Linked DNA regions of Homo sapiens: region 2 is linked to region 1. The links come from fine-mapping of genetic effects on gene expression. Tissue or cell type: whole blood. Region 1 holds a variant in brackets; the other region holds the start of a gene. Each region is shown on its reference strand, or each on the opposite one. Region 1 overlaps AP2B1 (adaptor related protein complex 2 subunit beta 1). Region 2 holds the start of GUK1 (guanylate kinase 1).

The links.
Region 2: GUK1 starts here. The variant in region 1 is fine-mapped to the expression of GUK1 in whole blood (TOPMed, PIP above 0.99).

What each region holds. Positions count from the first base shown.
Region 1 is chr17:35,617,955-35,620,763 of GRCh38, forward strand. The region is part of intron 5 of AP2B1 (adaptor related protein complex 2 subunit beta 1); the gene reads left to right. Among named protein-coding and RNA genes, the nearest start is that of AP2B1, 32 kb to the left of the region's middle. The variant A/G (reference allele first, on the strand shown) is at 1,134.
Region 2 is chr1:228,138,866-228,141,674 of GRCh38, forward strand. It overlaps GUK1 (guanylate kinase 1), which reads left to right and starts at 1,414. Exons shown (of 8, transcript NM_001159390.2): 1 at 1,414-1,498. The coding sequence starts at 1,438. RefSeq lists enhancers at 1,041-1,090, 1,201-1,430 and a silencer at 1,441-2,000.

The sequences.
Region 1 (2,809 bases):
TTAAGTAATGAATTTTATTTTTTGTAAACCTTGTTACTATGTAATCAGACTTTCTTTTCATAATGAGATGTGTTGGCTCACTAGGTAGTTTTACCTCTCATTCTAAGGAAGAAGATGGGGAAAAAATGGAATATTCTAGATTGTAATGTAGCAGGCATATTAACAGTTGGCATTCTAGACAGTGTTTTGGATTAAAGTATAAGCCCTAAGTTTTACTTGTTTGACTGGTACTGCAGTCATTGTCTCCTTAAGGAGATAATAATGACTGAAACTCTCAGAACAAATATGTTGTCCTATGCCTCACATGTCATTTGAGGTCATTCTGTAAAGGAGATAGCAATATTCTAACACTGCTAATTTAGAAGAGAACAAAAATATGTAAACCACCTGTGTATTTCCTCATAATAGTTTTGGTCAGTTACTCTACTTCTTTCACTTTATTCAAGTCTTCAGGGATACCAGCCAAAATAATTGTAAATTGAGCAGAAAAACTGAAGCATAAATCTGTTCATAGTGTGTGACCTTGAAGGTCATTGCTGGAAATCAAAGTCCTGTAAATAGTAATTTACTTAACAGGAAGAAGTCACTGAACTGGAAAGTGGTAAGTTTCTAAGGTTCCAAGGCCACGAAAATGAGTGAAATTAGAGTGCAAGGTGAAAATCATTTTAAGGGACAGGGAAATGGGTGAGAGATTCCTCATAAGTGAGCTTATGTGTGTGATATTCCACTCCCAGTTTATATCTAGATTTCCTTTGAGAGTCCTTTTTTTTACAGGGTCATTTTTATTCTAACCATACCTACTGTACCAGCTCACTCCTTTTTTAACAAAATGAGGTCAAATTTATTATCCTCAACTGCTGCATATAAGACAGGTATAGATCATAAATCATATTTTATAGCTAGGTAGTAAATCTTTCCCTCCCTAAGTACTGTAGGATATGATTATCTCTGAAATGTATAAAGTAGAATACATTTTTCTCCTTGTATATAAATCTACATGTCACCTTTGCTGGAAATAATGTTTGGATTATATTATCCTCCCCTACTCTGAATCTTCTTTCCCTTCCCTTGGTTGAAGTTCACAAGTCTTGGAAGCTCTATAAATGCTGGAGACCAAGTATTAGTACTCAGAC[A/G]CTGGAATCAGATGCAGACCTTGAGTTCAGATTCAAGCAGGAATCCCTTTCTGGCTGTGTTGACCCTAAGCAAGTCACTGAACTTCTCTAAGTCAGTTTTGTTATCTGTAATAGGTGGCTTTTAGTAGCAGCTACTTCAGAGTTGTTATGAGGATTAATAGCACAAAGTAAATATTCAATACATTTTAGCTATTCCAGTCTTTTATCTCTGTAAAACTCATTCTATTAGTATAATGTAAGTAAAAATACAAATTGCTTATCATTAAAAATTCAGGCTGGGTATGGTGGTTCACACCTGTAATATTAGCACTTTGGGAGGCCAAGGCAGGAAGATTGCCTGAGGCCAGGAGTTTGAGAGAAGCCTGGGCAACATAGTGAGACCCTGTTTCTATTTAAAAAAAAAACAAAAACAACCAGCAGATTCCACAGGTCCATAAGGAAATATCATATTGAAGAGAAGTCTGTAATTAAGGCGGAGAAAGATTTGTCTAGGATTGAGTATGATTTTACACATCTACATGTGCTGCTTTTATATATATGTTTGTGTTTAATATCTATCTCTGTAAAGTATACATAATTGGGTTAGCTCTTTGAGGGGATGTGAGGGGTGGGGAATGTTTAGTTTCAGTCTCCCCAAGAATAGAATTTACCATAATTGGGAGGCAAGATGAATAAAGGATTTTTTTTAGTTTTTTATTTTACTTTTATCTTTTTGGAGACAGAGTCTCATTCTGTTGTCCAGGCTAGAGTGCAATGGTGTGATCTTGGCTTACCGCAACCTCTGCCTCGCATGTTCAAGTGATTCTCGTGCCTCAGCCTCCCGAGTAGCTGGGATTACAGGTATGCACCACCATGCCTGGCTAATTTTTGGTATTTTAATTAGAGACAGGGTTTCACCATGTTGGCCAGGCTGATCCCAAGCTTCTGGCCTCAAGTGATCCACCTGTTTCAGCCTCCCAAAGTGCTGGGATTACAGGCGTGAACCACCGTGCTCGGCCAAGGATTTATTTTTTTAATGCTGCAAATGTGTCCCTTTGTCACCTGGATGCCAACTTTTTATAAATCAACTTGTGCTGAGGAAGCTCTCTTAAGAAACCCTATTTGTAGGCCAGGTACCTTATGGTGGCTCACACCTGTAATCTCAGCACCTTAGGAGGCCAAGATGGGAGGACTGCATGAGGCCAGGAATTTGAGACCAGCCTGGACAACATAGTGAGACCCCTGTCTCTACCAAAAAAAAAAATTAGCCAGGCATGGTGGCATGCACTGTGGTCCCATCTGCTAGTTCAAGATTACAGTGAACTATATGATTATGCCACTACACTGTAGCCTGGGTGACGGGCAAGACCCTGTCTCTTAAAACCAACCAACCAAACAAACCCCAAGGAAATCCTATTTAAAAATTCATTTTTAAAGCGAAACTTTCTCTAGAAACCCCCCTTTTTGGCTGGGTATGGTGACTCACATCTGTAATCCCAGCACTTTGGGAGGCCAAACTGGGAGGATTATTTGAGACCAGGAGTTCAAGACCAGCCTGGGCAATATAGCCAGCCCCATCTCTAAAAATTTAATTAAGAAACTTGACTGGGTGTGGTGGTACAAGCCTGTAGTCCTGGCTACTCAGGAGGCTGAGGTGGAAGGATCACTTGAGTCCAGGAGTTTGAGATTACAGTGAG
Region 2 (2,809 bases), not on the chromosome of region 1:
TTTTTGAGACGGAGTCTCATTCTGTCGTCTAGGCTGGAGTGCCGTGGCTTGATCTCGGCTCACTGCAACCTCCACCTCCCAGGTTCAAGTGATCCTCCTGCCTCAGCCACCCCAGTAGCTGGAATTACAGGGGCCCACGACCACACCCAGCTGATTTTGTATTTTTAGTAGAGACAGAGTTTCACCATTTTGGCCAGGCTAGTCCCAAACTCCTGGCCTCAGGTGATCTGCCTGCCTCGGACTCCCAAAGTGCTGGCATTACAGGTGTGAGCCACTGCACCCAGCCTTCAATAAATCTTTTTTAAAAATTTAAAATAATTTTTAGAAATAGAGTCCCGTGGCCAGGTGCAGTGGCTCACGCCTGTAATCCCAGCACTTTGGGAGGCCAAGGTTGGTGGATTACCTGAGGTTAGGAGTTCAAGACCAGCCTGGCCAACATGGTGAAACCCTGTCTCTACTAAAAATACAAAAATTAGCTGGGCGTGGTGGCGGGCGCCTGTAATCCCAGCTACTCGGGAGGCTGAGGCAGGAGAATCGCTTGAACCTAGGAGGCCCAGGTTGCAGTGAGCAGAGATGGCGTCACTGAACTCCAGCCTGGGTGACAAGAGCGAAACTCCGTCTCAAAAAATAAAAAAAGAAAGAAATAGGGTCTCGCTCTGTCACACAGACTGGAGTGCAGTGACACGAACACCGCTCACTGCAGCCTCGACTGCCCAGGCTCAAGCGACCGTCCCACGTCAGCCTCCCGAGTAGCAAGGACTACAGGCACAAAAAAGTTTTTAAATTTTTTGGTACAGAAGGGGTTTCCCTATGATCCCCAGGCTGGTCTCCAATTCCTGGCCTCAAGCGGTCCTCCCGGCTCGGACTCCCAAAGAGCTGGGATCACAGACGTGAACCACGCGCCCGGCCACATTCCCCAATTAATGGTTTTTGGAGAGTGGCCGGTTTGGAACGGGCTAGCGGAGTCGTTCGTTAGTTAGGTCCCTGCAGTGTAGATGGAGGACGGAAACGGCGCTGTGACATAAGCGGGAGGAGGCGGGCTGAGGCAGCGCTGTGACGTAGCAGATGAAAGCCGGGCCCGCGCTGCACTGAGGTACTTCTCTGAGTGACAAGCGGGACAAGTACGCCGTGGGCGGGGCCGGCGGGTCGTGATGTTAGTTCGCGCTGTGTGGAGGCGGGCCGGCGTGGCGCTGTGACGCAGCGGGAGAAGACGGGCTGGGAGGGCGCTGTGCTGAACGCCCCTGCGGTCGCGACAGGCCAGCGCAGGTGGAGGCGGGGCTAGCGAGGCACTGAGGTAAGTACTTCCCTAAGGGGCGGGGAAGAACGAGTGAGACATGGGCGGGGCAGTCGCCTCATGACGTCAGTCTCGCGCGCGGGCGGAGGTGGGCCGGTGCGGCGCTGTCACGTAGGTTCAGTGGGCGGAAGAGGTGGCCCCGGATGCTGCGGCGCCCGCTGGCCGGGCTGGCTGCGGCCGCCCTGGGCCGGGCCCCACCGGACGGTGAGTACGACAAGCGCGATCGCGAGGGTGACTCGGGTCGAGGCGGCAGCGGTCCCTGCGCTTTGCGGTCGCCCAGTCCACGCCGCCTCCGGATCTCCTCCTAGCCGAGACGCCCTGTGCCGCATTCAACTGTGGGCCCTGAGAACGGGGGAGCTCTGGAGGGCGGACGGGCTGGCAACGCAGCGGAGCCCGGGTCCCGGAGGGCGGGGCGCTCCTCAGGAGCTGGGCAGGCCGGCAGTTATCGCAGTGTCGAGCTGCTCCCCGGGCGTATAGGAGCGCTCGGTGTCTTCCCGACACCTGGGCGCGCCGCCAAAGAGAGCAGCTGGGAGTCCCTACCGCTGGCCCGGCGCGGTGTGCGCTCCGGTTCCCACCTCACCCTGCAAGCCTTGGGGTCCTGGGCGGATGGAGCCGGCTATTCCGGGGCTCCCAGGATTCTGCCTACTCCGCGGCACGGCGCAGAGACGGGGACTTGGGGAAACAGCAGGCCTTCCCGACGCATGGGTGTGGCATTTGGGGTTCGGATTCTCCAAAGCCAGAGTCCGGGTTGGGGTTCTTGAAGCTGCCCTGCTGCCATTCTTGAGCGTCGCCTTAGAAGTATGCCCCAGTAAGGACTGGTGTGGGAAGCAGGTGCCTCAAAGTTGATTTTGACCCTGCGTGTGGTGGGCCTCGGTTTCGTCTTTGCATGAAAGAGGTCGGTCCTGAGGCCCCGGGCTGGGTCCTGCTCTGCTGTCTTTGGGCTCATGGCCCCTTCCTGTCTCAGGCTTGCTCTGCTCTTTACCTGGGGTTGCTGTCGAGGACCCTGTGCAAGACTCGGCCGGTTTTTCTTTCTCCCTGATGGACAGACCCAAACATAGCCGCGCAGCATCGTGAAGGGCTGGGGCCTTCACTCCTCTGTGGCTCTGGAAGAGCCCGATTTCCTCAGGAGGTAAAGGAATGTTCCTGTCCCCCCCGGGGAAAGAAAGTGAAAATGAAAGCGCCCTGGCTGCTCCTGGTGTGGTCCCATTTAAAACGAGGTTGCTGAAGGCCAGGATGCGTGCTACCCGGATGTGTGCCCAGAAACCCTGCAGCCAAGAGCAGCCGCCTGGACCACCAGCCTCCCCTTCATCCACCTGGCCCAGCCCAGAGCCCAGGCCCACGTCTGGTGGTTTGTGTCTTACGAGAGGCCAGGCGGGGGCTGAATTCTCTCGGTTCTCAGAAGGTCAAGCCCTCTGTTAGCATCTCCTCGAACAGTGGGCCGGGGGCAAGGTGGTGACTCTGTTCAGTCCTTAGGATGGCTGGAAGCCAGAAGGAGGAGATTATGCCGCCACAGCA